Homo sapiens: one gene and its partner. The protein of the gene in region 2 interacts with the protein of the main gene of each other region in a pairwise test. Each region holds a gene or a part of one and is shown on either strand. Other genes may lie near its edges. The genes, in order: CIB4 and TACO1.

Region 1 (15,207 bases), on a different chromosome or scaffold from region 2:
GACAGGGTCCTAGGCTGGAGTGCAGTGGTGCGATCTTGGCTCTCTGCAACCTCTACCTCCCAGGTTCAAGCGATTCTCCCATCGTAGCCTCTGGAGTCACTGGGACTACAGGTCATGCCACCATGCCAGCTAATTTTTGTATTTTTTGGTAGAGACAGGGTTTCTGCATGTTGGCCAGGCTGGTAGCAAACGCCTCACCTCAAGTGATCCACCAGACTTGGCCTCCCAAAGTATTGGGATTAGAGGCGTGAGCCACCATGCCCAGCTAGGTTGTGGTTCAAATAGCTAGCATTTATTGAGCACTTACTATGTGCCTGACATTATTCCCTGTATTCGTCAATCCTCACAACAATCCCATGATTATCATCCCCACTTACAGATGAGGAAACTAAGACACACAGATATTGAAGAGCTTGTCCCAGGTTACAATGGGGTGGATCTGGGATTGGAGCCCAGGCACTGTGACTCCTGAGCTGACAGTGTGACTCTCAGCCCCATCTTTGGACTGCCTTTCTGCTTGTTGTATGGGACTGATGCCTCTTAGCTTTGGGATTGAAAATAATTTGCTTCTTTGCTAACTCAGCAACTCAGGTGGAATGGGAATGAAAAGAATTTGTTTCTTTGCCAACTCAGTAACTCAGGTGGAATGGGCAGAAGGTGGAATGTAGGTCACCATGGCAACTGGATCAACGAGGTGCCTCAGCTGGCGAGTCCTTGAGGCTGAGGTTCTACTGCTGGCAGACAGAAAGGTGTGGTTGGCATGGGGCAATGCTTGAGGTATCAGATGCACTGGGAGGACCTGGAAGAGTACCAGGTGGGTAGATCGGGCTAGGGACTCTGGGCAGAGGTGGGAGCTTCCTAAAGCAGGTGGAATGAATGGGAAAATTCCTTCCTGACGCTCTAGCAGGGGTGTCCAATTTTTGGCTTCCCTGGGCCACATTGGAAGAAGAATTGTCTTGGGCCACACATAAAATACACTAACACTAATGCTTGCTGATGAGCTAATAAAAAAAAATCACGAAAAAATCTGATAATGTTTTAAGAAAGTTTACAAATATGTGTTGGGACCCCATTCAAAGCTGTCCTGGGCTGCATGTGGCCTGCAGGCCGTGGGTTGGACAAGCTTGCTCTAGAGTTTACCAGGCGGGGTAGCGGTGGTCCCTCTCTTTGCTAAATCTGCATCCATGTGGCCCAGATGAGATCTCTAAGGTTACCTTCCTCCATCTGTCTCCTGCACCAGAGCCCAGAGTTTCACTCTTGTCTCTGATCTGCTCTCCACATCTGTGCCAATGCCCTCCTTCCCAGGGCTGTAAGAGACTAGGGGGTAAGAAAGAGCACCATTTCCTCTCCTGCTGCCACCTCAGGCATCCACCTCAACCTGGGGTTCCCCCAGCTGTGCAGCAAAAGAATGGGCATTTCCTCCCCAGCCTCTGAATTGCGCCACTCCCCAGGGGCCACAGCAGGGATGAATGGAGTGGACACGTCGCTTCTCTGTGATTTGTTGCAGGCCCTGACCTTCCTGACCAGAAATGAAATTCTGTGGTGAGTAGAAGCCCCGCCCCTCTTTCCTTCTCCCAGCTCCTCCCTCTGAGCTGGATTCTTGCCCTAATACAGCCTCACGCTGGTCCCTGAGTGTGGTCCCTGCTCAGAGCCACACAGCCCTGGAGATGGGGCTGGGACACGGCAGGCAGGGATGGGAGGGCCCAGGGGCCACGATCCGCAGAGCCCCACTGGAGCTGAATGAGACACCAGGCTTTAGGCTGCTAACCTTTTACTGGGATCCAAAGTGAGGTTTCTTCAGAGGATCATGGAGCTGGACAGAACCTCTTTGGAATAATGAGGAGAACAAGGAAAGGACTTGGGGAACTTATGTCTGAAGCCCATTTTGGCTGTCCACTGGCTGGGTAAACTTGGATGCATGACTGAAGCCCAGACTTCCCTCTCCACCTCCCTCCCTCCCTCCCTCCCTCCCTGCCCTTTCTCCGGTGCCTGTGATGTGCTGGCCTCGTGGAGGCCCTGAGGGTGGGGTGGTGAGCAGCCCCGCTCCCTGTTGTCATGCGGACCGCTGTCCAGTGGGGAAGAAACTTCATTCAACGTGGAGGTGGCCAAATACCCTTCTCGTGGGGCTGTGGGGGAGAGTGAATAGTGTGAGAGGTGTGTGTGTGTTTGTGTGTTTGGGCCAAGCCAGGTGCCCAACAAAACCTGTTAGATGAATAAAGGAGCTCACCAAGACACTTTCAGGGGAAGGTGGGGGAAGGTTCCCTCTCATCATCTTTGCTTGGACTAACCCTCCCCAGTCACCACACGGAAGCCACATTTCCCACTCAGGGTCTGGTGGTGGCAGGTAACAACTTTGTCACAAGTGCAAGACTCTCCAGGCACAAATGAGGATGGGGGATGGCCAGGGCACGGGGAGCTAACCAGGGGCTGTCACCCAGTGACATTGTTTCCCTTTTGAAAATAATATTCACTCACTTTTTTAAATATAGAAAAATATGACATAACTCCAAATGACCCATATCCTACTACCCATATAACCTCTATTGAAATTTTCTGAAAAGTATCACATGAATAAAAATAAAATGAAATCTAAAAAAAAATGCTACCTGGCTAGAAAATTCAAAATTCAAATAATGGTTCTCAGTCATAAGTGGGAGTTGAACAATGAGAACACATGGACACAGGGAGGGGAACATCACACACTGGGGCCTGTTGGGGGGTGGGGGTCTAGGGGAGGGATAGCATGAAGAGAAATATCTAATGTAGATGACAGGTTGATGGGTGCAGCAAACCACCATGACATGTGTATACCTATGTAACAAACCTGCATGTTCTGCACATGTATCCCAGAACTTAAAATATAATTTAAAAAAAAAAAAAGAAAATTCAAATAGTGTAAAAGTTCTAAGTGAAAAGAAAATGTCTCCATTCTCTCCTCCCAGTCCTTTTCCCTCAAGGCCGCCTCTGCTCACTGTTGGTTTGTCTTACCATCTAGCCTTCTGGAAGAATTTTCCATACATAAGCCAACACATTTATCCTCCTTTTACCCCATTCACATGGTTGCATTTATCCCTTCATACTGTTCTGTACCTTTTTTTTTTTTAAGCTTTTGGGGTTTTTTTTGAGACAGAGTCTTGCTCTGTCTCCCAGGCTAGAGTGCAGTGGTGCAATCTTGGCTCACTGCAACCTGTGCCTCCCTGGTTTAAATAATTCTCTTGCCTCAGCCTCCTGAGTAGCTGGGACTACAGGTGCCTGCCACCACGCCCGGCAAATTTTTGTATTTCTGTAGAGATAGGGTTTCACCATGTTGGCCAGGCTGTTCTCAAACTCCTGACCTCCAGTGATCCTCCCACCTTGGCATCCCAAAGTGCTGGGATTACAGGGGTGAGCCACTGCACCCGGCCTACATTTTAGAACTTCGATGGGTGAGACAATGTTGTCCTTCAAAGGAGTTGCACCAGTTTGTACTCTCAGCAAGGGGGCATGGCCATGCCTGCCCCTCTTTCTAACCCAGGGGCTTCAAATGGCATTCATGGATCCACCCCTGGGGTTCCTCCTATATGCCAGGAGAGAGCATGGGGTGGTGGACGAGAGGAGTGAGAGGAGTATGGGAAGGGTTCAGGCTCTCTCTCGAACATCGATCCTCCATTTTCATTTGTTCTGCCTTGGCCTTCGGAGAAAGAGTTCCTTGGAAGCGAGCCATGCTTATGGACGCCTCCCTTCTGAACCTCCCACCCAGGACCTGAGACGACCTCCTCCCAGATCCTGTTTCCAGTCTGTTTCCATCCCTGTGGAAGGTGCCTTTCCCCGGAGAAGAGCACAGTTTGGCTCCGCGTTGTGTTGGGGAGGTGGGTCCCTGTGAGTGCTGCCAGGGAAGGCTCCAGTTCACAGTTCACGGTTCATGGTTCAGTGCAAACTTCTCTAACAAGCAGTTCTTAAAGCTCTTTCTGTCCTGCCCCTTCTCTTGAGAGACCCATTCCTGAGCATGAAGGGCCTGTGCCTGCCCCTGGGTAGCTCCTGCTCAGGAGGCTCCCACTCTCAAAGGCCGGCGTGCGTCAGCGCTGGGGGTGGTGGGGTTGGGGACGCCACTGCATAAGGAAGGCAGAGTAGAGGGCAAAGTATCCAACTCCTATTACTTGGACACCTTCAGATAAGACAGAGTGAGAAGCACTAGTGGGGCCAGGGACAGCAGTGCAGAAACTCTCAAATGGGAAGGTGATACCAGTGAGAGCCCTCTGCTGCTTTAAACCAAGGGGAGTCTCCAGACCCAGGAGACCACAGCCTGGGAAGCAGCTGAGAATGTGGAATAGCTGTCAAGAGCTTTGAAGAGTGGAAGAGGACCAGCGAAGGCAGGAGATGCTGAAATGTCCCAGTTCAAAATGAGAAGTACACCTTGACCCAGCCATTCCACTTGCATGAAGAGGACACAGGTGAAGTAAGTGCTGATTCATCCCTCTGTGGAAGACTGCCCTTAGAGAGGAGGGGAAGAGCTTTCTGTTTGATATAGAGCCATCTCCAAGGTATATTATTAAGTTAAGAAAGCAAAGTTCAGGGGGCTTCCAGTTACGTGGAGAATAGAGCATTTTCTTTGACCTCTGTTTACTAAAAGGAGAGTAAAGGAATTAAAAAAAACAAAAAGAAGAAGAAAGAAACCCATAAGGACAAAGAGAACACAAGCAATGACAGCAGATGAGAGAGGTCAACAAAAATTTTACAAGTGCAAAGCAGATAGACCCATGACGCAGACTTAGCTGAATAGAAAGTTGAAAGAATTTTGCCTGCAGGGGTTGGATGATGGAATCGAGAACGCAGAAAGGCTCAGGAACCTCCAAATGCCAGGATGCAGGATCAGGTGAAAACAGAAAGGCAGATTGAAAGTCTTATGTGATTCCTTCTCTCTCCCTCTGCAATCCACAATCAACTTGGCACCCCTGCCCTGCCCCAGCGGAAGACAGGAGCTAACCATCTGGGGAGAGCTGGAGCCAGACAGGCCCCTGACTCAGGGCCACCAGCATGATGAAGAGCAGGGTGAGCTTCTGGTCAGCATTTTAGAGCCTCCCTGTAAGTAGAAATCGAAAGCTAAGGGACACCAGGTATTTGAGGAAAGAATAAAAAACGGCCTACACACACTAAGTCATGCCATCATGACATTTCAGACTGGCAGAGATGATGAGAAGATCCTGAGTGCTTCCACGGAGAGCAAAACAGACTACAGAGAATCAGGAATGAGAATAGCTTTGGACTTATGTTGGAAGACAGTGGCTAAACACATTCAAAATTCTAAGGAAAAAATTTCAATCTAGAAATAAGTTCTAGCTAAGCCATTAATCAAGAGTCAGGGCAGGATAACAATACTTTTTGTCATGCAAATTAAAAAAATCATCTCTTATGGACCTTTTCATAGGAAGCTTTTGGGAGATGTGCTTCATTAAAACTAGCGAGTAAACCAAGAAAAAAGAAGACCCAGGATCGGGGAAACAAAGGCTTTCAACCTAGAGGCAAAACGAATTACAAGGAAGATAGTGAAGGGAAGCTGAAGGATGACAGCAGGACAGTCGGCCTGGAAAGCAATCAGTCCAGATTAGAATTAGGGAGTCAGGGGTTCCAAGAGTGGTGTCTCTAAGAGACAAAATGAATCTATCTAGATACCATATTGAGAGGTACTTATTTCTGCAGAAAGTTTGGAGATGAAATAAAGATAGGCACACAAAAACCAAGGCAAAAAACTGAAAGTGATTATTCATTCTGGGAAAAACAAAAAGACTTGCAGGAAAGAAGTAATCATGTTGCACTAGGGAACTCAGCTTGAGCAATGTTTGAATAATGCATATACGATATATAATATTATTATAAACACTGAATATTCATTCAGGAAAATTGTTTTATATTGGGAGGTTGGGGAAAGGAAAAGAAGTATATATAGAGAAATAAATCCTCTTTTTTTCTACTAAGAGGTCACAAGATAGTATCTATAGTGAAAACAACAGCAAAGGCAGTATTAGCACAGCATTTGGAAGTACCATGTAAATATTAAGCAAAAACAAAGTGAAATAGCAAAATGCTTGCAAACTGCTGCCTTTGGAGAGCAGGGTTAGAGAGGTGGTGTGGGGTATGGAGTATTTGTAACTTTGATTGTAAGCTTCACAGTATCACAGTACTATTTGCATTTTTAATCTATTTAACTGTATTACTTTGGCAAACAAGACCAGTACATACAGGCTGCTACTGCTCTTATGAAATAAAGGGCTGTTCATACATGCATACACAGAGGAGAATATCCCTGGAAGCAGACACAGAAACTGATAATAGGTTATCTTCTTGGTGGGGCCCTGGGGAGTGGAATATGTTAGGGTTGGTGTGGGCATGCTGTCTGTAAAGTGAGGGGACAGCTGTGATGTGGATGCCCAGCTTCTCTGGCTCAGGGAGCAGAAGGCATGTGATACTCACGGAGAAAGTGGCCATCCTGGGCTACCAAGGCCAAGTTGAGCCAGACGAAGCCCTGGTCACTTTTGAATGATTTTCCACTGTGGCCTCTGACAATGCCTTGTGATTTTCCTATTGGTGTCATAGAGAAATGTGGCCCAGATGGCAGTACAGTTGGATGGACTTAGCCAGTTAAAAAAGTATTCAAGAGACCGATAGGTAGAAGTAACCTTTGCAGGGAGGCTGGCTCTGTCCAATATTTTCCCACCTTTTAATCTGTGACTTGCATAAGGACACAAAGGCCTGGTCACCAGATCTGCAGATGACACCTCCTGGGGGCTGGTGGGGGGAGACCTCATGTTCTAGACTTGTCTTGGAGCCAGCACCTTCCCAGTCCAGGGCTGCTTTGGTTTGGCCCTCCAAGAAGAGGTCTGTTCACTCTAAGTTTCCAGCCTATGAGACTTTCCTTTCACATGTTTTTGATCTCAGCAAAAGCAAGGTCCCTTTCCGCCCTAGCATCGGGGCAGCATTGTCTGACTCTGTTTGAATTGGTTGTCCCAGAAGAAGCCTTTTCCCGAGATGCCTCTTCTGGGCCCAGGCCCTTCCGGCGGTGACTGCAGACCGTGCAGACCCTGCAGACCCAAAGAGGGCCCATGTGGCTTCCTGGGCAAGGCACAGCCTGACTCCAGCCCAGACCTCTATGTCTCAGGCGCAGGTCAGCCTGGCTCAGCCCGAGCTCTTCGGACTACTCTGCATTGCCTGGGATGGTTCCTGACACTCTCTTGGGTGGGGTGGGGTCTGGTTTAGGAGCCTGAAGCTTTGCTTCCAGCCTCTGCTCAGGCTGACCCAGCCATGGGGCCTTTCTTCCTAGAACCTCTGGAGGTTCCAACACTTTGTAGACTCCATGGCCCTGTCCTGGCCATTAACGGGCACCTCAAGGCCGCAGGTGGAGTGGTTACAGGTTTATTTCCTGGAAGCCAAAGACCTGGGTTTGAGGCTCAGCTCTGCCACTTAGTAGCTGTGCAAACACGGGGGAGTGTCTTACCCTCCCTGAGCATCAGTTTCCATCCTTATAAAATAGTTGAGGGAAATAGAACCTAATCTCACAAGGTTGTTATTAGGACAACCAGAAGATCAAATCTGTCATTGTTAGAGCAATACCTGGCACATGGGTCAGCACCGATTACGTGGCTGCTGTTACTATCATGGTATTATTATCCCTACTTTTTGCAAATGAGGAAATCAGCTCAAAGAAATGAAGTAATTTCCTCAAGCCCACACAGATTGCAAGTAGCAGATCAGGGAACTAAAAGCCACATTTTCAGGCTAAAGAAGGACCATTTAGAAAATATCTACTATCTGCAGGCAGTACTGTAGAGCAAAGGACTATTGACCCCGTGGGGTGGGGGTGAAGCCAGAAAGCTGGGACTTGAGGAGTGGGAATTCGGGTTTGTCATGTTCTTGATCTCTCTGGGGCAGTAGAAATACTGAGAAGCTTGTAGAACCTGTAGGTGCCTCGGGCTCTATCCTGGCCTTGAATGAGAACTTCAAGGGGTGGGGAGGGCAGATCCTTTTACAAACTCCCTACATGATTCTTACGTGGGACCCCGTTGAGAACTACTAAGCTAGAGGGTCTCAGAGGCAAGGGGGTAAATGGGATGCCAGAGAGAGGCACGAAAGACTAGAGTCATAGGATACCTAAACTGGAGGGAGCTGGGGGGATGCTGGGACTCTAATTTCACAGAAGGGAAACTGAGGCCCGAGAGGGGACTTGGCGAGTCCAAGGTCCCACGGACAGTCAGCAGCAGAGTGACCTCCACCCGTCTTAGGGCCAGCCCCTGAGCCCGCAGGCAGCCCCTCCTGCCTCTCTGGGCTGTGTGGAAGGGAGCCATGGCCCAGGCTGCTGGATTGCTGGCAGGCTGAATGTGTGAGTTTTTCAAATGGCTTTGACTTTTGAGTCCATTAGTGATTAATTCAGGGTTCCATTTAGAGCCAGCTGATCCATATTTGGAGGAGGAGAACATTTTATGGCAGCCGAGATGCAGCCACGATTCATCTATGGGCAGCCCGCCCACTCTGCAGCCTGGGAAGGCACCAACTCCAGGCAGGCACCCCACCAGCACCCTCCCCGAGAGGACTTTCCAGGGGGGTGACTCGAGTCTCTCACCTGGAAGAAGGGTGGGCCCTTTAGGGGTGGGCAGCACAGCCCGAAGAACTTGGTTTAGGGTTCAGCCCTCCACTCCGTCTCTTCCCAGCTGTATAACCTTAGATACAACACTTAAACTCTCGGAGCCTCAGTTTACCCATCTGTAGAAATGATGGCCCCTCCACTTCTCCCACAGAGAGTTGTTGGGAAAATTCAGTGAGATGATGTGTGTGAGTGCACCCGGCACAGAGGCTTTGTCATGAGAGGGTGGCAAGGGCTGGTGAGTTTCTTTTCTGCCCCTCAGCAGCCCCTGATGCCTCCTGGGGAACGAGCTTTGGTGTTTGTATCTCTGGCTTTAACATTTACCACTGTGTGACCTTAGGTAGATTATTTTACCTACTTGACTTTCAGTTTCCTCATCTGTAAAAGAAACAATGGTCCCTTCCTTGCAAGACTGGCATGAAACATGCAGAATGTCCGTGAGAGTTGGCTACACAGAGCAGGCACTCCCGGTGGTGCCCGTGGTGGGGGCAGGAGCCCGAGCTCACTTGTGCGTTGCCTTAGGGATTTAAAAAAAAACCAAAACATTAATTTTTGTTGAAAATTGCTCTTATTGAAAGTGGGTCTGTTCTTTATCACCTCAAGCCAGCAATTCTAACTATGACAGTGACAAAATGCTCCTTTTGACTGGAGCCGGCCACTCCCACTGCCCTTAACCCTTTCTTTCTTTTTCTTTTTTTTTTTTTTTGAGATGGAGTCTCACTCTGTCGCCCAAGCTGGCGTGCAATGGCGCAATCTCAGCTCACTGGAAGCTCTACCTCCCGAGTTCAAGCGATTCTCCTGCCTCAGCCTCTGGAGTAGCTAGGATTATGGATGCGCGCCACCATGCTGGGCTAATTTTTTATATTTTTGGTAGAGTTGGTGTTTCACCATGTTGGCCAGGCTGCTCTCGAACTCCTGACCTCCAGTGATCCGCCTGCCTCAGCCTCCCATAGTGCTGGGATTACAGGCAGGAGCCACTGCACCCGGCCTACCCCTCGCCCCTTGTAGGCCACTGGACACTTCAGCAGTGATGGCTTTTCTTCCTGCTTGTTGACCTGTGGTTCCCAGCATCCACCCCAGTACTTTCCTGGAGAATCTCTCCCCCAACCCGTTCCACACTCTGCTTTCTGCTCCCTCCCAAACGTGTGCAGTCTCTAGACCCTAGTGACAGCTCAGGCCCCTTCCGTGGCCAAGGCGGCAGTCATGGTGCTCTCCATGAACACCACACGCCACTCCAGCTCCCATCTGTCAGGCCCTAGCCTGGATCTGCACAATGCCACTGGAAGGAGGCTGGCTCTCCATCAGACAGAGTCAGGATATGAACCTGGGCCTGCGTGCTCAGAGAGGTCCGGCAGTTTGCCTTGGGTCTCGTAGCTAGAGGTAGAGAAATAGGATCCAGATAGATCCAGATAGGTCTGTGAGCAACCCGGCGGGAAGCAGGTGGCACACTCAGCAGGATCTTTGAAGGTGCTTTGCAGTGAAGGAACTGTTCAGAAGGAGGCCCAGGGAAGCACCCAGGGGCCAGCCCTGACTGCCCCAGGCCTGAGGTGATAGCTGAGAGCTGGAGCTGCAGAAGCTGGCTGCTAGCCTGAGACAGCGGGAACACAGACACTGCAGAGTCGTGTGGGGCTGGGAGGGAGAGGAGGATAAATCCCCACCCATCCCTCATACCTCCAGTCCTCCTGGAGCTTCCCTTAAGCCAGAGGGAAAGGGAGGTGGGAACACTGTCAGTAGAGATCAGCCTCCCAGGGCACAGAGTGCAGTGGGCACACAGAATCCCAGCATAGTTTCTTTCCACTCTCCCAGGGCTGGGAGCTGAAGGATGTTTTTCTAGTCAGTGAGATGTGAAACAGTGAGTGGCTGGCAGGGTGCGAGGCCTCCACCTACCATCGTCAGGGCTCTGGGAGAGCCTCCTGCTTCCTGCTCTACCTCTGAGTCTCCACTCCTAAAATCACCCTCCAAATTCTTCACCTAGTTTTTGTTGTTTATTGAGACGGGGTCTTGCTCTGTCGCCCAGGCTGGAGTGCAGTAGTGCGATCACAGCTCGCTGCAGCCTCAACCTCCTGGGATCCAGTGATCCTCCCACTTCAGCCTCCTGAATAGCTAGACTATAGGTGCGTGCCAGTATGCCTGGCTAATTTTCAATTTTTTTGTAGAAATGGGGTCTCCCTGTATTGCCTAGGGTGGTCTCAAACTCTTGGGCTCAAGCGATTCTCCCGCCTCAGCCTCCTGAAGGGCTGGGATTACTGGTATGAGCCGCCGCACCCGGTCTTCACTTAGTTACATGTCCCTAAATTCCACCAATCAGAGCCTCATTTGAGTCAACAAACCACATACCCTGGAATGTCAATAGGGGACTGTTAGTCACTCACTCCTGCATACAGACTCCTTTCATGGGATTGCTGGCCTCTCAGGAGAGTAGAGGTTTGATGGAAGACAGGAGAGGAACAGGAAAGGACTAAAGGAGGGAGGGGTAATTTTGGAGCATGGAGGGGACCATGAAGAGAGGGGAGAGCAGGTCTGGGTCAGGGTGGTGGGCTCCCACTCTCACAGTCTAGGTGTGGGTTGTGCACAGCCCAGGAGCACAGGGGCACCTGGAGTATAGGAGAGAAACACAGAGAGAGGGCAGGCTGGGTGTCCCCTCTGAGGCCCCGGGTAACACAAACACTCTTACCTACCAAACACTGCGCTGACGTTTCATACACCTCCCCTCATTTAATCCTCACGAGTGTGTGGGGGGAGATTTACTACCCCACTGCAAAGAGGAGCAGACTGAGGCTCAGGTGGATTCAGAACCTTGCTCGACGCCTCAGAACTATTAAGTGGCAGAGTCAGGATTTGAATGTAGATCTGTCCGGCTCTAGAGACAGTGTTTTCAACCAGCCTGTGGTGACCCCACCACCCGCCATCCACCATTTATACATAAACACACATACCCTTCAGCCTCCTTCACACTGAACCCCCGCCACAGCCCTCCAAGAGACATATCATTCTTGTCCCTTATCCAGATGATGAAACTAAAGTTCAGAAATGTCAAGTGAGTTGCCCGAGGTCACACAGCCCTGCCACAGCAGTTCAGGTTCTGGGATCCAGGCCTCCTGGGCCCCAGGGCACCACTGTCTCACCTCCACTGGCTGCCTTGGGTGCTGGACCTGTAGGCCTAAGAGCTTGCTGGTGGACAGGGACCCAGGTTCAGGATAGGGTGAGAGAGACAGGCAATGAGGGCTCATCCTCTCTTAGCCTGAGGCAGAGCTCCCTCCCGCCCTCTTACTCTCAGGGGTCACACGGCCATTTCACCCTCTGCCTGTAGCTTATAAGCAAAATCCTCTTGACTGGGATGGGATCCTATAGACAAGAGACATCGCTGACAGGGATGATTAGGAAGACCAGTCAGTCCACGATCTGCTGCAACCAAGTTTGCTGTCAAGTGGCCTAGCAAGGCTGGTGGTTTGCTGGCTGCAGGCAGCCGGGCTCTAATCCCGGCTCACTCAGACCCACGAAGTGACCTCTTTTCTTGGGTTGAGGATGGAAATTGGCAGATGGCCAGAGGTGGGGACCCTGGCTTCCCCAAGGTCCTACTGGCTTCCCCATCCGTAACCGAGGGACTGGACATAAGCCCCTTCAGTTCTGACATTCTATGATGAACCCTCGTAGAGTGTGCTGCTCGCTACAGGGCATATTCGCCTAACTTTCCTCTCACCTGGCTCATCTCTGCATCCTCTATGGTGTGCCTGGCACACTGGAGGGTCCAGGGATGTTTCTAGAAGACATATTTATTACTGCGCTTTATTATTATTGATTACTGCCTTTTCTGTGTCAGCCAACCCCAAGTCTCCTTCCTCAAAGAGACACCCCCACCCCTTGCAGCAGGAGACAGGCTTGCTGGCCTCCTTTCCCCGGCCACACAGTGCTGGCCTCCTTTCCCCGGCCACACGGTCTTCATGCCTCTCTTTTCAGCATCCATGACACCTTCCTGAAGCTCTGCCCTCCTGGGAAGTACTACAAGGAGGCAACGCTCACCATGGACCAGGTCAGCTCCCTGCCAGCTCTGCGGGTGAGTCCAGGATGGTGGGTGGGGCAAGGGCAGCATCAGTGGGACCTGCTGATGGGCTGATGGGTGCTGGGAGGGGTGGGGTGAGGTGGGCACTCCGTGCTGTGGGATGGTCACCTCACTCCAAGGGGCTCCTGATCCTCCAGGCAGAGGAGTGCAAGGACATGGCTCCCAAACACTTCCTGCATGCATCTGGCCTCCCTCCATCCTCACCTCGGTCCTAGAGCAGGACCCTGTGATAACAGTCACTACTTCTCAGGTGGGGCCAGGGGCAGATGGGGCATGAGACCTGCTCCAGGCCTTACCGTGGGAGGTGGCGGCCCCATCTGGAGGTGCTCACTGGCCCTGCTGCTCAGCCTCCGAGGCCAGCCTATGGGTCTTTAGATGGGCTTCAGCTTGCAGTCCACCCCACTCTGTTTGCTCATTCCTTACTTAACCCTCACCCCAGTGACCCCACACCAGCCAGTTTCCTCTGCTGTCTGTTGTGCCCCAAACTAGGGCAAGTGACCCTAGGCCAGGATCCCCTGCAGGACCATTAGGCCTTGAGGAAGCCAGGGTGCCACCCTAGCCATCGGCCCAGTCCCTCAGCCCTTCTCTTCTCCTCAGGCTGCCTCAATGGACTGGGGCTTTTCTAGAGGGACTGAGAATTTTCTCAGGTTCTTCTCTGAGAAGACAGGAGGAGCAGGGCTCGGGGCCCAGAGACTGTCCTCCCAACCTGCCTTTTTCCCAGCTCCAGGAGTGGCTGCAGGAAAGAAGGGTGCTTGCATTTCTGCTCTTGCAATCCTCTCTCTCCTCAACTCGCCCTCAATTCAGCCAGCGCTGCCTGGGCTGGAGGCTCCTGTTACACAGAAGGCTGGTTGAATGCTCATTCCCTCCCAGTTTCCACAACTTGTCCTGGGCTGAATCTCACCTTCCAACCACCTAGAACACACTCCCACCCCCCACAAACACACACCCTTGCTGTGGATGGGTCCTTGGCAAACCTTCCCTGGTCTTGGTTTCCTCACCTGTAAAATGGGTAGAGCAGTGGGGGGAGGCTGGGAGTGACCATGTGCACTCTAAGACTCCTGGCCCCACAGGCAGTGCTAGCCTGAGCTGTCCCTGCTCCCCCCACCTCCCAATCCTTTAGGGACAATTATCTGAGCCTTTATCCCTGTTATGAAGAGGCCCTGCCCTTCCCCCAGGGCAGCCTGGAAGAGCCTAGAGGCACACAATAAAGGACTCCAAAATCACTCCTGAGATTTTAATTAAAATTTGTGCATTGCATTGAGAGGAAATGTCACGTTAACAAATCATGGCTACGTCAGGCTTCTCTATTTTTCATTCGGTTCTTGGCAGAATAATGACTTCAGTTTGTCATTGTTCAATGAGAGCCCATCTTCGTTTCTGTTTGGAACGAACTGGGCTCTGAGAACTGTGGCCACCACTTGGAAGAGGCCTGGGGATACCAGGGAGGAGGAGGCTGGCTCCTGAGGAAGGGACATGGAGGGGGCACAGACATGTCATTCAAGCCACGGCTGCACGGCCCCTCCTAAGTGACAGGCCTATCTGTAGGGCAGACAGAGACAGAGGAAAATGCACAAAGCTGGGTCTTGAAATAGAGGCAGGAGTGGAGAAGACAAAATAATGAGAAAGGGTGAGGGGTGGGTAGGTGGGTGGGGGTAGCTGGGAGAAGCTGGGATTCTGGAGGGGAAAGAAATAGAAACCTCAGAAAGGTGAGTGAATCGGAGACTGTGACTGTGACAGAAACAAAATGGGGAGGCGGTCTTCCTGGCACCCCCCACTTCCTGGCCTCACCCTCATACAGTCACACCCCATGTGTACACGTGCATGGGCTCCACCACATGTGGGTGGGACTTCTCTCAAACCCAGGCCATCCACTAAGGGACCCGGGGTCAGGGCCAGCCAGACAGGCAGGGCTGATGGGAAGCTTCTGCCCTCCCCTGGGTGGGTGCAGGGTCACTGGTCAGTCCCAGACTCTCTGAATGCTACGACTGGAAAGAAACTTAGAGACCACCCAGTCTAGTCACTGTCAAATGCTCCTCACCCTGATTTTATTAATGGGGAAACTGAGGTCCCAAGAGGGAAACAACTTCCAAGGGGCCACATGATGGAAGAGTCTGGACTAGTTCCTGCTCTGGGGGAGTCAGCTTGAACTCTGGCCCAGGCAGAGCCTCCTATTCTAATCAAGGCTTGGCTGAGCAGTGACCATGTGCCTGGGTCTTCCAGGTGCCACAGAGGGCCCAAGGGGAGCCGAACTGGAGGGGTGGCATAGAGGGTGTTGGTGACCCATGGCCTCAACACATCCTTCTCCAGCAATAGCCTTGTCTCAGTAGGGCCTGGAGTCTCTGTTTGGCCCCCAAAGGAGTAAGCACTGGACTAAGATCAGGAGGGCTGAGTCTGGGCCTGGAGCTATCACACTCCTTGCATGTATATCCCCCCATCTATAAACCAATATGAACACCTTGTGCTGGGTAAGGGACCCGGTGGAGGTGAGCCATTGTCCTCTGCACTATCTTTTATGCTTCCCCTGTTCCTCTCTTCC
Region 2 (15,964 bases):
GCTCTCTAGGCTGGAGCCTGAGCTCTCAATCTTTATTTTTGTCCCCACCCTCTAACCAACTTTTGAGGTAACAGGAAGTACTACCCCTAACTTGGAAGGAGTCTGTTTCTCCGGTCCCTGAACAATCCATCAGCCATCTCTCAGCTTTGCTTCCTACCATCCCTAACCAAATGCCACATCTAGTCCCTACCCAATCCCACTCAGACTCATCCTCCTACACCCCCATCCTGTAAGAAACCCACCGGTCAAGTCTCAAGGTCCCTACCCTGGGCTGCTGAGTACTGCTGTGAAATATCACACACCTAGGCCTTGTCGTAAGAGCTGCTGAAAACAGCATGGTCTCAAAATTGAAACAATTAATCCAGAGCTCTAGGGACTAATCTCTTCTGGACCTTCCATGCCCCTACTCATCCCTTGTCCATGTATTCAATATTCCCCACTCCAAGCACCCTGTCCTGCAACTTTCCAGGAATTCTCAACTCATAACTTCTCCCTTCCTCTTTCACAAAGGTAAAAAGGGCCACTAGGTGGGGAAAATAGTTGCTGTCTCCACCACCTTCTCTGCACCATGGCCTACATGAAGGCAATAAGCATAACGGTTAGAGCACAGGCTCTAAAGTCTGACTATCTGGTTTCAAGTCTGTCATTTTCTATGCGACTTGAGTCAACTCACCTAACATTCCTGTGCCTCAGTTTCTACTTACGGTGGTTTTGAGGATTCGATGAGATAACACACATAGAGTTTTTATCCATGCTTAGCCTGCAGGAAGCACTCAATAATTTTGAGCTATTAAGATAACTATTACTTCCTCAGAGCCTCCCTACCTGCCCCAGAGAAAGGTGTACCCTTACGTGGACTCTATATACCTGCCCCTCCCACCATCTCTATCACCCCCATCCTCTCCCTTTCTACTGGCTTTTCTCCTTTAGGGCATAAACATCTGAAAAACAAACACTTCCTCCACCTAACGTAAGGGCTTTCTCCCACACTGCCCCTTCTTTCTATAATACCTCATCTCCCTACAACTTGGCTGAGCAGTCCCGGTCTTGACTGTATGGCCCTGCATACTGCCTATGCATCCTACTCCCAGTTGTGCTCCTAGAACCAATGACCAAGGACGGTGAGCTCTCAGAAGACTCTAGGCTGAGGGCGTCAACTACATTGCTACCGTTCTCTCTGATAATTTTTTTTTTTTTTTTTGAGACAGAGTCTCGCTCTGTCGCCCAGGCTGGAGTGCAGTGGTGCAATCTCGGCTCACCGCAATCTCTACCTCCTGGGTTCAAGCGATCCTCCACCTCAGCCTCCCCAGTAGCTGGGATTACAAGCATATGCCACCACGCCCAGCTAATTTTTGTATTTTTAGTAGAGATGGAGTTTCACCATGCTGGCCAGGCTGGTCTCCAAACTCCTGGCCTCAAGTGATCCACCCACCTTAGCCTCCCAAAGTGCTGGGATTATAGTCGTGAGCCACTGCACTTGGCCCCTCTGATAATTTACAGTGTGTTTGTTGGCCATCCAGACATGAGCCCGGTAGAGGCTGTGATCAATAAAAAGCATGTCAAACAGTACACACCTCCATTTTCAGTGCTGTCTCAATCGTTGACTTGGGCATATGTTTGCTGCGACACACCTCTAAGATATTGGCCAGGTTGCTGTTGTGCTCAGGGTTGGGGCCTCCTTCTGAGATTTAAAGAAAAAGAAAAAAAAGAGTGAGCAAAGACATCTCATTACAACATGGGAGAATAAAAGGGATTTCCAGCCCCACCAAGCCAAAGGAGTGGCAAATCACCATTTAGCTCTCAGTTACCTTAGAATACCTTAACTAGTGTTTCAGTGGGATACGGAGAAGTATTTTCGGGTTTTTTTGGTTTGTTTTTTGAGATGGAGTCTCACTCTGTTGCTGGCTGGAGTGCAGTGGCACGATCTTGGCTCACTGCAACATCCACCTCCTGGGTTCAAGTGATTCTCCTGCCTCAGCCTCCTGAGTAGCTGGGATTACAGGTGCACACCACCACACCCGGCTAATTTTTGTATTTTTAGTAGAGACCAGGTTTCGCCATGTTGGCCAGGCTGGTCTCGAACTCCTGACCTCAGGTGATCCACACACCTTGGCCTCCGAAAGTGCTGGGATTACAAGTGTGAGCCACTGCCCCTGGCCTGGATAAGTATTTTGGAAAAGTACTTTTTTTTTTTTTGAGACAAAGTCTCACTTTGTCACCCAGGCTGGAGTGCAGTGGCATGATTTTAGCTCACTGTAGCCTCAACCTCCAGGGTTCAAGCGATCCTCCTGCCTCAGCCTCCCAAGTAGCTGGGACCACTGGTGTGCACCACCACACCCAGGTAATTTTTTTCGTATTTTTTGTAGATTCAGGTTTTCACCATGTCGCCCAGGCTGGTCTCAAACTCCTGAGCTCAAGTGATCTGCCTGACTCGGCCTCCCAAAGTGCCGGGATTACAGGTGTGGGCCACCATGTCTGGCCAGAAAAGACCTTTTTTTTGAGACAGAGTCTCACTCTGTCATCCATGCTGGAGTGCAGTGGCATGATCTTGGCTCATCTTGGCTCAATGCAACCTCCCACTCCCGGGTTCAAGGGATTCTCCTGCCTCAGCCTCCTAAGTAGCTGGGATTACAGGTGTCTGCCACCATGCCCAGCTAATTTTTGTATTTTTAGTAGAGATGAGGTTTCACCACGTTGGCCAGGTTGGTCTCGAACTCCTGACCTCAAGTGATCCACTCACCTTGGCCTTCCAAAGTGCTGGGGTTACAGGCATGAGGCACCGTGCCTGGCCAGAACTTTCTAATTCATTGTCTTTAGGGATGGTTTTCATTCTGCTAGGTTTCAGCGATCTCTACTTTGTGTCAGATGAAGAAGGGTTATAGATGGTAACAACACTTCCTGGACTCATTACTGCTCTTACTCTACTACTTTGTGCATAATAATTATTTTTATTTTATTTTATTTTTATTATTATTTTTTGAGACAGAGTTTTCCTCTGTTGCCCAGGCTGGAGTGCAGTGGTGTAATCTCGGCTCACTGCAAGCGCCGCCTTCTGGGTTCACGCCATTCTCCTGCCTCAGCCTCCTGAGTAGCTGGGACTATAGGCGCCCGCCACCACCACGCCTGGCTAATTTTTTTGTATTTTTAGTAGAGACGGGGTTTCACCGTGTTAGCCAGGATGGTCTCGATCTGACCTCGTGATCCGCCGGCCTCAGCCTCCCAAAGTGTTGAGATTACAGGTGTGAGCCACCGTGCCCAGCACTTTGTGCATAATTATTGAAATGTTCACATGACATTGTGATCTGAGGGTAGGGGCTGTATCTCATCATCTTTCTAGTACCAATGGCATGCCTGGCACAAAATAAACACAAGTTGGTTGAACTTCATTGGGATGCAGTGGCTGATACCTGCAATCCCAGCACTTTGGGAGGTGGAGGTGGGTAGATCATTTGAGGTCAGGAGTTCGAGACCAGCCTGGCCAACATGGTGAAACCCTGTCTCTATTAAAAATACAAAAAAATTTAGCCAGGCATGGTGGTGCACACTTGTAGTCCCAGCTACTCCGGAGGCTAAAGCAGGAGAATCACTTGAGCCTGGGAGGTGGAGGTTGCAATGGGCCAAGATCACGCCACTGCACTCTACCCTGGGTGACAGAGTGAGACTCTGTCTCAAAATAAATAAATAAATAAATAAATAAAAGTTGCTTGAACTTAATATCAAGAATTTTGAAGAAAAGGAAGCAAACAAATACCAGGCATGAGCTGAGGGGGTAAATTAACATTAACTGAATGCCTATGATGTGCCATAAACCATAAACTACCTCAAGGTGGGTATTATCCTTGTTTCAGAGAAACTCAAGTTAAGCTACTTGTTCAAGGTTAGTCAGTGACAGAAACCAGTCTTCCTGACTCCAAAGTCCACAGTTTCTCTCTCTTTTTTTTTTTTTTTTTTTGAGATGGAGTCTTGCTCTGTCACCCAGGCTGGATGGAGTACAGTAGAGCAATCTCGCTTACTGCAGCCTTCAACTCCTGGGTTCAAGCAATTCTCCTGCTTCAGCCTCCCGAGTAGCCAGCATTACAGGCATGCACCACCATGCCCAGCTGTTTTTTTTTTTTTTTTTTTTTGTTATTTTTAGTAGACACAGGGTTTCCCCATGTTGGCCAGGCTAGTCCTGAACTCCTGACCTCAAGTGATCTGCCTGCCTCTGGCCTGGGATTACAGGCTGTGCCACTGCGCCCAGTCCAAAGTCCATGCTTTCTACAGGACTTTTCCTTTGCTCCTACAGATGTCTGGCCCTAAACAGAAAAAAAGCCTTTTCAGTGTGGCGACCTAAGGGAGAAAAGACATGGCTGCAAATCTACCTTCCAAGGAAATGTGTCTTGGGGAAACATTAATGAAGCAAACTAAGGCCTAAGCTAAGGCCTAAGCACTTAAGTAATAGCTTTACTCAGTGCCCCTGCCACAACCAATAAGGTACTTGAGGCGACTTCAGAGGGGTTGATTTGTCTCTTCAGGAGAGACACACATCTGCCCTGACTCTTAGGGCTTGTTTCTATTAAGTACCCAGCTAGATTAGGATGAAGTCACTTCTACCTTACCGGCTTATCTTCTTAAGAGCAGCTCCCTCTCTGACAAACTGGCCAGATGCTCAGCGTCTGGAAAAGTGAGTGAGAACCTCCAACGTAGGGTAGGTGTTTTGAGGATTTATGAGGTGGGCAATGGTGGGTACTGGGGAAGGAAAACAAAGTGAAGGGCCGGAGATCTAGGTGGGCCCAATTCCGAGAGGCAAGCGAGGCTGCGGGCACTGAGAGGGCAGCGGCAGCCAGTGCTGGGTGACCGTCAGGGTCTCACCTTTCACTGCCAGGCGGATGTTCAAACAGAGTTTGGAGAAGATGCGACTCCTTTCGACGTCCTTCGGACCCTTGATGTGCCTGACTTTGGACCACTTGTTGTGCCCGGCGGGGACAGCCGCGGTAAAGTGCAGCGTCCTGCCCGGAGCGGCACCGCAGCCCCGGGGCTCGGGGTGGGAGGGCCGGGGGTCGCGCGGAGGAGCCGCCCTGACCCCGGGGCCTCGTGCCAGCAAGCATCGGGCAGCGGCCCTGCTTAGGCTGGCAGCAGCCCAAGCCGACATCGGTCCCGACCCTGGGGTTCAAGCTGCTAGCAGCAGCGGCCAACGCCGGCGCGTCTCTTCCACTGCCGGAACAAGCAGTTCCGGACCCCGCGGCCGCCTGTGCCGGTCACCTGAGATCCAAAGGCTTGGGCCCGCCCGGGGCGGCTCAACAGCTAATGACCCTACACTGTCCCCGCGGCACCCGGGACTGGGGGCCCTTGATGGCGTAGCACACTTCCTTTACCGGGTTCGCTCCAAAAACACGTCCCCACTGCCCGCAAAGTCCGTTCCGTGGCTGCACGGTACTCGCTCCTCTCTTGCCCTTGAGCAGATCTAGTTAGTGCTCAAGCCCTCACGGTTGCCTAGAGAGCGCCGGACTTTGTTTCTCATAATGTTTTAGTGGAGACACATCTGAGTTATGAAACTGACTTTGCTTCCAAATTGCTGCCTAAATCTGAGCAAGTCCAGAATGATATTTTGTTGTTGCCTCATTGTACTGGGAAAGAAACTGCTGCCAGAGAAGTGAATTGCCCAAATGTTTAATCTCTCTGAACGTCTTCCCTATTTATAAATAAGGATCTAATATTTGCTTTATCAACATAGGAAAGTTAGAAACACAAAATGAGCCCTTAGAGCTTTAAAGTAATAAAGTTTTATGTAAATAGCCACAGTGCACTTAAGCCCCTAGATGCAAGAGATGGTTTGGGACAGACTCAGATGAGTCACAGGCCTTTGGGAGAGGGAGAATGATCAGACAAGCCCTTTGGAGCTAAACTCCCCTCTTCATTTTCTCTCTGCTGTCTCGAAAGAGAAAACCGAATCCGTTAGAAGATGGAGAGAAACAAAGCGGCAGCTGCTGAAAAGCTTTGTAGTGACTCCCATGCTGGTGAGATTAAGTCCAAAGGGCATGACATATCAGGTAGAGAAGCAGGACAGCCGGGCGCGGTGGCTCACGCCTGTAATCCCAGCACTTTGGGAGGCTGAGGCAGACGGATCGCTAGGTCAGGAGTGCCAGACCAGTCTGACCAACATGGTGAAACCCCGTCTCTACTAAAAATACAAAAAAATTAGCCGGCCGTGGTGGCGCGCGCCTGTAATGCCAGCTACTCAGAAGGATGAGGCAGGAGAATCGCTTGAACCCGGGAAGAGGAGGTTGCAGTGAGCCGAGATCGCGCCACTGCACTCCAGCCTGTGCGACAGAGCGAGAATCCAACTCAAAAAAAAAAAAAAAAAAGAGAGAGAGAGAGAGAGAGAAGCAGGACAGTGTGAAGTCCAAGTTTGTGCCCTCTGCAGTTAGACTGGGTGGCTTCAAACCCTGGTTGTTCCATTTTCTAGTGTATCCTTGGGCAAGTTCCTTTACTTTCCTGTTTCAGTTTCCTTACCATAGAATGGCCTTGTGAGGACTAAATGGGATAATGGATGCAAAGCACAAAAGCATAGATTTTTTATTTTTTATTATATAAGAACCTCCATGGGGCTGGGTGCGGTGGCTCACGCCTGTAATCCTAGCACTTTGGGAGGCCGAGGCTGGCAGATCACTTGAGGTCAGGAGTTCAAGACCAGCCTGGTCAACATGGTGAAACCCCGTCTCTACTAAAAATACAAAAATTAGCCAGGTGCGGTGGGTGCCCATAGCCCTTCATACATGCTTGCACCTTAGCACTTACCTTTTAAAAAAATATCAAAATGTTTATATCTGTTTCTACCGTAATACTAAATTCTCTGAGAGTAGGACTGTACTTCCTATGCCCAACACAGTTCTCATTTTTTAAAAAATTAAGTTTTGACATATTTCACAGATCACACAGATCACCAATTCAAAGTGTACAATGTGTTATAGAATATTCAGAGCTGTGCACAATTGATTTTACATTTTCATCATCCCCAAAAGAAGTCCTGTACCCATTAGCAATCATTCCCTATTTCCCCCCAATTCCCACAGCCCTAGGCAATCACCAATTTACTTCTGTCTCTGTGGGTTTGCCTCTTCTGGACATTTAATATGAATGGGCCCACACACTATGTGGCCTTTGGTAACTGGCTTCTTTCACTTAGCATGATGTTTTCAGGATTCTTGCATGTTGTAGCATGTATCAGTATTTCATTTCTATTGCCAAATAATATTCCATTGTATGAATATACCACGTTTTATTTATCTGTTCATCAGGCAATGGACATGTGGTTGTTTCCACCTTCTATGATGAATAATGAGGCTGTGAACATTCATGTACACATTGCTGTGTGGACCTATGTTTTCACTTCTTTTAGTTATATACCTAGGAGTGGAATTGCTGGGTCATATCATAACTATGTTTAACCTTTTGTGGGATTGCCAGACTGTCTTCTAAAGTGGTTGTATCATTTTACATTCCCACCAGCAATATATGAGGGTTTAATTTCTCCATATCATGAATTTTTTTTTTTTTTTTTTGCTTTGTTACCCAGGCTAGAGTCCAGTGGAGCAATCATAGCTGACTGCAGCATAGAACTCCTGGGCTCAAGTGATCTTCCCATCTCAGTCTCCCAAGTAGATGAGATTACAGGTGTGAGCCACTGGCTAAATTTGTTATTCTTTTTGACTATAGTTATCACCATCCTTGTGGGTGAGAAGTATTATCTCATTGTGGTTTTGATTGTATTTCCTGAATGACTACTAATGGTAAGCATCTTTTCATGTGCTTATCAGCCATTCATATATAGTATTACTTTTTGCAATTTAAAAATAGTTTATTCAGGCCAGGCATGGTGGCTCACACCTGTAATCCCAGCACTTTGGAAGGCCGATTTGGGGCAGATAATGAGGTCAGGAGATCGAGACCATCTTGGCTAACACGGTGAAACCCCGTCTCTACTAATAATACAAAAAATTAGCTAGGTGTGGTGGCACGCGCCTGTAGTCCCAGCTACTCAGGAGGCTGAGGCAGGAGAATCGCTTGAACCCAGGAGGCGGAGGTTGCAGTGAGCCGAGATCGCGCCACTGCACTTGAGCCTTGGTGACAGAGCGAGACTCCATCTCAAAAAAAAAGAAAAAAATATATATGTAATATTTACTTTGAGAAGCAAAAATCAAATTAATGGAATTTGTAATCACAAATAAGTGTAGAGGCTAAAACAAGGTTTGAGACTGCCCTAGTCCAGTCAGCCTGAGACCAGCAAGGGAAACCTATAGTCTCACAGAGTTAGGCTTATCAACTCACTGCAACAAGGGAGACTGCACACCAGAGGAATGGTGAAGTGTCTTACCGAAGAAAAAACTGGTCATAGAATTATGGGGAAGGGTGGAAGTTAGGTGAAAAATTAGAGTTAGGCTCAAAGAAACACAGACCTGTGTGAAAGGCGGATTAAGATCAGCTGGACTACCAAGTGGACCCAGGGGATCAGTTTCCCTGGAAAGTACAAAGTCAAGGTAAATGTGGACTGTTGTGTTCAGAAGCCCCTGCTCTGAAGCACAATACCTGGCCTGGAAATCAAGGCTGCTTCTCTGTCAGAGTGACTCAGCTCCTCCAAGCAAGACTGACTATAAGCCTTAATTCTCACAAATACAATTGCAAACAGCAAACTTTGTCAGCCTATGATTTTGGAGAACGAAATTTCTCAGTGAATTTTTTTAAAACAGTAGTCACTCAGGGAGTTTTGACACTTTATGTTGCCAAAAAAAGAAAAAAAAATTGCAGTGTGTTCTTGATAGAGGTACTATATCCTGTTAACTGTGCAGCTGGTTTTATCTGTCTGTGCATCTGTGATGAATGGCAGGGCAGATTTTAACTCTCAGTCTGAGTTAATAGCCACCTTTCAAGATAAATTCATAGTTGACTGAACCATCTCTAGACGCCTGGCTGTCAGGCTCACTGAAATCACTTAAGTAACAATGAGCCTTGGAAGCTAAAGACTGGCTACAAATATCATTCCATTAGGTTTGACCATGTGTTGTCCAGTACTAACAGCTCTCAATGAATGAGATTACATTAGTTATTAGTCCAGATACTTAGCCGATTTGCTAGTATGGCTGAGACATAATTATTCACTACTTCACTTCCTTTTCCAGGGTACACAGGAAGACTACATTTCTTGACTTGACCTTCCTTGCAGTTGGCAGATAGGAGCAAAAGTGAGTAAGCCACTTCCCGGCCCATCCTGAAAAATGTACTCCCTCCCACCCCCCATAAGCAACCTGGAGGTCACACGTTTATTTTTATTTTTTGAGATGGAGTCTTGCTCTGTTGCCCAGGCTGAAGTGCAGTGGTGCGATCTTGGCTCACTGCAACCTCCACCTCCCGGGTTCAAGCTATTCTCCTGCCTCAGCTTCCCAAGTAGCTGGGACAACAGGCGTGTGCCACCATGCCTAGCTAATTTTTGTATTTTTAGTAGAGATAGGGTTTCACCATGTTGGCCAGGCTGGTCTCGAACTCCTGACCTCAAGCTATCTGCCCCTCCCTCCCCCCTCAGCCTTCCAAAGTGCTGGGATTAGAGAGTTGAGCCACTGCACCCGGCCCAGAGGACTTTGTGTAAGCAAAAAATAAGCTTTTGTAGTGCTCAGTTTCTGAGATTTGGGGGTTTGTTGCCGCAGCATAGGCTAGCCTATAAATAGTATTACTCTCTGTTTTCTCCTTAAAAACCAGAGAGCAGGACTCATGTGTTTCTCACAAAATATACATTGTCAGACCATATAGCAGCACAGTTCCAAAGGACCAGCAGGTACTCATAAAACTTAAATTCTCTGCCAGGCACGGTGGCTCACGCCTGTAATCCCAGCACTTTGGGAGGCCGAGGTGGGTGGATCATCTGAGGTCGGGAGTTTGAGACCAGCCTGACCAACATGATGAAACCCCATCTCTACTAAAAATATAAAATTAGCCAGGCGTGGTGGCACATGCCTGTAGTCCCAGCTACTCAGGAGGCTGAGACAAGAGAATCGCTTGAACCCGGGAGACGGAGGTTGCGATGAGCCGAGATCGCGCCATTGCACTCCAGCCTGGGCAACAAGAGCGAAATTCTGTCTGAAAAAAAAAAAAAATTAAATTCTCAAGAGCACATACTTCCCTTCACAGATCCACTGCCACCGGCTCCATATCAGCTGACACAATGGCAGGTACTTACCGAATACAGGTTCACGGAACCAATCAGTTTGCCTTTCTTCTCTTCCTTCACAGTGGCCCAACATGAAGAATAAAAATATAAATAAATGGGGGTAGTATTTCATCCAGGACACACAGCATTTGAAGAGCAGTGGGATAGGAACTCCCCCACCCTACCGTGTGGGGCATAGGTTTGGGAAATTAGCAGGGACTTGGACATTCCTAGTCAGCCATCAGAACCTGTCCAAATCCAAAAGATCTGGGAGTTATTTCTCTGTCCTCCTTCACAATCAATAAATTACTAAATGCTGATGACTGCATCCCTCTTTACTTGTGCCCTGTCCTCTCCATCCTTGCCGTGGCTGCTGCTGCCGCCGCCGCCTTAGTTCAGGGTTTTTCTCTCACCCTATAAGAAGGAAGAGGCACTTTTTCATTGCCTATCCTTCTAAAATGCAATTCTGATGACTCCTCTCTGTGTATGTTTTCCAGGATCATACAGAAGTGTAATGTCTAAAATTTCTGCAAAGCGGGAGACTTTCCCTGCCCTGGCTCCTGTATACATCTCTAGCTACATTTCCCACTATTCACCCCACCTCAACCTGCAATTCTCTAAATATGACCATACTTTCTTGCCTCCATAGATTTGCACATGGGTGTTCTCTCTGCCTTAAAGGACATTCCCTATTTCCAGATAACTCCTACTCAGCCTTCAAAACCCAGCTTAGGCATCCATCTTAAGTAGTTTTCGCTGACCCCATGTGGCTCCCACACAGGCAGAGGTGATCACCTCCTCCTGAGGGGTGATGCCTAAACACATCCATTATCGCACAACAATGCAAGTTATTTGGTTTTTTTGTTTTTTGTCTTTTAAAAATTTGGGTGGGAGGGGGTAGGGATAAAAGACTACCAATTGGGTACAGTGTACACTGCTCCGGTGATGGGTGCACCAAAATCTCAGAAATCATCATTAAAAAAACTTATTATCCACATAACCAAAAACCACTTGTTCCCCCAAAACTATTAAAATAAAATAAATGCCAGGTGCGGTGGCTCACACCTGTAATCCCAACACTTTGGGAAGCTGAGGCAGGCGTATCACAAGGTCAGGAGTTCGAGACCAACCTGACCAACACGGTGAAACCCCGTCTTTACTAACAATACAAAAATCAGTCGGGTGTTGTGGCACATGCCTGTAATCTCAGCTACTCAGGAGGCTGAGGCAGGAGAATAGCTTGAACCGGGAGGTGGAGGTTGCAGTGAGCCGAGATCGCGCCATTGCACTCCAGCCTGGGTGACAGAGCGAGACCCCGTCTCAAAAAAAGAAAAAAGAAATGCAAAAAAAAAGATTTGTCTTAGATCTTAGTCTGGCTAAAAGAAATTTTTTTTTTTTTTAATAAAAATGACTGATTGATTGAGACAGGGTCTTGCTATGTTGCCAAGGCTGGTCTTGAACTCCTGGCCTCAAGTGATCCTCCCACCTCAGCCACCCCCATGCCTCAGCTGGGATCACAGACCACTGTGCCCGGCCACAAGTATTTATGTAGATGTCTCCTCTGGTAGACTGCAACCAACTTGAGGGCCATGTCCCCTGGCATAGAGGAGGTGCTCCACTGAATTAACAAGTGAATGACTAAATAGGATATAAAAGGTGATGAGTAGACTGCCCGGCTCGGGCTGGGGCACTGCCACTGTCTATGGAACATGACCAAAGTGACAAAATGGGAAGAACTGAATTCGTCACAAAAAGAAATTCAGTCAATCTATACATGTTCAAGTTTTATTACAAAGTATGATGGGCAGAAAATACGGTACTTCTTATACAGGAGGCTGAAACAGAATGAAAGGGTGAAAATTAGGTTTAATTTACTTAGGAAACAAGAAATAGAAAGTCATAGCTATAACACTCCACTTTCAGGTGCCCATGAAGTAGCCTTCAATGGAGATTCCCCATAGTTGTTTCACAGCACAGTGTTAAAATTTTATTACAAGCCCTGTGTACAATCAGTCCTGTGAAAATATTTATAAAAGAAAAATATTACAGTACAGTTCTGCAAGGGGCAGCTTCCTCTACACCTGACCGTGGATGCCACAAAACCTATAATATAGAGGGAAAGTTTAAATATATAACAAGAATGGAAGTTCAGACATACTAGGCTAAAGGACACAGAAATGGATCAGTTAGAGCTTAACATTTCAGAGCAAGAAATCTCCATTTTCTACATAGAGGTTTATACAATCATGCTACAAATTCACTCTGGGTGGGGTGGGGAAGGAAGGTCACTGACAAGAGGGGTAGTAAAATACACAGGAACCAAAGCAAGTGAGTCAGACTCAACTAAATCGATTCAAAGCTTCAGCTCAACAATTTTCATAACACATGGTATACCACAATCAACCCAAGGTGAGAACATTTCTTTTAAATAGTAGATATCACATGTTCATAATCACTGGGTTGTCCCAAAGGTGGGTGCCTATAAACTTTCCAGCTGTTACATAGACTGTCAACATCTTTCTTCTTGAGTTTAAACTTTCTTTAGCTTATTTGTTTCTCGTTGGATATACCAGTCCAAGCCTCTTTGGGAAGGCACCTGCATGTTTCCATATTTTAAAAATGACATCCAGAAAGTAGCCTGAGAGGACCTGGCCCATCCCATGTGGCCACACATTTGACTTTGACCATTAGCAGCAGTGACACTGTGAGAGGGGGAGAAGGTGCAGGTGGGTGAAGTGGGCAAGGGTCTGCAACACGAGACGCTCTCAGGAGCTGGCCCAGCCAGGGCCTGGCCCAGGGTTCACAGTGACTTTGCTCTGCTCCGCCCTCTTCCCTGGGAAAACCAATCTAAGTATCAAGCATGATCTTCCTTCTTCGTCCTGGAGTACACACAGTAAAGGGAAAAGTCTGCTTTGAGGCTTCTACTTCAATGGTCTCCCCTACCCCAAGCCAGGAATGAAAGGGGCTGCCATATTCTCAAAGTGGGGAAGGCAGAGGGACAGTACTGGGCTGCCCTCCCACGTGTGGTAAACCCTGCAGCTGCTACATGTCTTCACAGCCCAGGAATTCAAGGCCCAGGTGGCAGCAGGAAGAAACAGTGGAAAAGCAAGGGGAAGAGAAAAGAGAAAAAGGAGGGGGAAAGTCTGCATAACTGTCATAACCTCTGCTTCTCCTGCTCTGTAACAAACCCACAACCAGGAAGAGTCATGGTCTGGAACAATCATGGGACCCCAAACGCCTGTAGGTTTTTTACCACCAAACATCACCCATGGCTGCTCTAAGCTGTCATTTTGTTCCCACAGTTACCTAGCATCACGGATGCCCAATTTATGGCCCAGGAAGGCTGACCCAGGCTAAGGGCAGTCTCACTCCACAGCCATGCAATGGACAGTCTGAATGTTTCCCTACCCCAGACCTTCACTGACCTCTACTATTTCCTCCTCTGATATAAAGAAAACACTTTAATTTTCTCCTGCATCCTACATCTCCTCCTAAAATTTTGGCCCTAATTGTCATCAAAACCTTGTAGGATTCTGAATTTTTTGTTTCTTCCTGAATCTTAGCCAGTTCTCTCAGAGCCAATCCTGGATTTATAAGGAATTTTCACCTATTTTTTTTTTTTTTTTATTTTTTGAGACGGAGTCTTGCTCTGTCGCCCAGGCTGGAGTGCAGTGGCACGATCTTGGCTCACTGCAAGCTCCACCTCCCAGGTTCACGCCATTCTCCTGCCTCAGCCTCCCAAGTAGCTAGGACTACAGGTACCCGCCACCACCCCCGGCTAATTTTTTTTTGTATTTTTAGTAGAGATGGGGTTTCACCATGTTAGCCAGGATGGTCTCGATCTTCTGACCTTGGGATCTGGCCACCTCAGCCTCCCAAAATGCTGGGATTACAGGTGTGAGCCACCACACCCATCCTCGCCCAGTTATTAAATACCTTCCCTCTTCAAGTCCTAACCTTGCAGGCTAATTCCTCCCTGGAAGAAGAGGATTCCAATGCTCCTGAGCATAAAAAATTCAGGTCCTTGAATGACGTGGACCCATTCTCCAGCTCTCTGGTGGTAGAGGCCTGAGGCCTAATTTATTCAGCACCTCCATCCTTCAGTCAGAACAGATGAGGACAATACAGGCAGCTGTGCCTCAGGCTGCCAGGAGCAAAAGGGCCATCACCAGCTGGGCCACAGCCTGGCGGAGCCTCCATGTGGGCTTCCTGCTAAAGTCCTAGTGGCTGCTCCTCCCGCAGTCAGGGAGAACAGATCCAGGGCCTCCCACCCAGTCTCGCTGGCTGTCAGTTTGAGAACCTCAACAAATTACAGAGTTGTTTTTGCAACTACAACAGATCGGTGCTTTCTGGAGCATGGATGGCTTACAGACTTTCTAAATCCTGAGACTGTAGAAATCCCCTCCTCAGTCATGGGTCGTCGGGCTGGTGGAGTAAAGGGAGGGTAAGAGAGCTGGGACTCAAAGACCAGCAACTCATCAACTGTGAGTATGTGTGTGCTTGCTTAGGGGGGTGGAGTCCCCCTGGGTCCCCGGTGGCATTCAGGGGAAGACTGTACTGCAGGACCTAAGGAAGGATGACAGGAGCTGGGCGTCCACAGGGCAAGGGAAATCTCAAAAGTTGTTGGTTTCCAGAGTAAATAGCTATCTTATGCAAATATGTTCTAATTATTATTTTTTTTTCAAGTTGTTGTTTCTGAGTTCCAGCTGACAAATTCCACCATACAGACCAGGCGTAGGTGCAGATCAGGAAAGGAATCTTAGAACTCAGTGGATGTAAGCCCTGCCCAGCAGACCAGCCCCTTCTACCACTGACTTCCATTTCAGACCCTTCTCCACAGGAAGGAACTGATGGCCTCCTAAACAAGCAGCCATCAGCTTGGCCTTGCTACCCTTGAGAGAAGGACCCAGTAACCATTATCAAACACAATGAAAAGCAGAGGAGGGTTCTGACCAAGAACTGCTCGCTTTGTATCTCCAAACGATGCAGTGCAAATCCAGTGGCAAATGCAGGAGAGGCAACCACAAGCACATGGCCAGCCAGAGTCCTAAAATCAGAACAACAAAGTAAAAGGGTAGAAGGGGAAATATGCTGGCTAAAAAAAGAGCCTTTTTCTTTGGGACAGGTCCCTGTATGGTAAAGCAAAGAGCTAGACTTTTGGCATATAATGACATCTACTTCTGAAAAGGAAGACTTAACCAAAAAAGCTTAAGGGCCCAGAAGAACAAAGTTACTGTTTTACTTCTCAAGCAGGTGAGAACCAAAGAGGACAAAACCATCATCCTTCAGGCCTGCTACTCTACTAATCTCAGATGAGCAATTCAGAGGGACTTAAAAACCTTCGGGTAGGAGCAGAGCGCAAGGAAACAGCCAACTTTCCCCCAAGAGCACATCCCAAACTGCCTGCCCCAAGGGCTCATCTAACGGTGGAATCACACATATGCCCCTCCATGGAACTCATTCACATAACAGAAAGACACCTGCGGCCTGCAAGTCAAAAGACAACTGCAGGCTACAAGTCCAATACTGCTCAGAACCTAAACTGGGGGAGAGAGGGGTTGACAGGTGTGGGTAGAGCTCTTAACTGGCTGACCCTGGGGGTCTATAATTCCTTTTCCTTCTTTTTTTTTCCTCCCTTTTCATTACCCACAGTATAATGCTTTTTAACTATCTATCCACTTGACAGCCCAGGATTGCCGCAGTCCATCAGTCCATCTCTCATGTAAGGTCTTGTTCAGGGTTGGAAGCACAGACAGGATGCCTCGGGAAGACTCTCTCACCTCAGAA

The links.
Region 1: the proteins of TACO1 (region 2) and CIB4 interact in binary tests that used the Homo sapiens proteins (3 or more experiments, as listed by UniProt).

The regions. Positions count from the first base shown.
Region 1 is NC_000002.12:26,626,868-26,642,074, reverse strand, and holds the start of CIB4 (calcium and integrin-binding family member 4), read left to right. Parts: upstream 1-708; 5' UTR 709-760; coding exon 761-814; intron 815-1,451; coding exon of another isoform or gene 1,452-1,507; coding exon 1,508-1,542; intron 1,543-3,435; exon of another isoform or gene 3,436-4,415; coding exon of another isoform or gene 4,416-4,435; intron 4,436-12,568; coding exon 12,569-12,665; intron 12,666-15,207.
Region 2 is NC_000017.11:63,590,251-63,606,214, reverse strand, and holds the start of TACO1 (translational activator of cytochrome c oxidase 1), read right to left. Parts: upstream 5,321-15,964; 5' UTR 5,132-5,320; coding exon 4,852-5,131; intron 1,682-4,851; coding exon 1,575-1,681; intron 1-1,574. UniProt on the Homo sapiens protein: Acts as a translational activator of mitochondrially-encoded cytochrome c oxidase 1.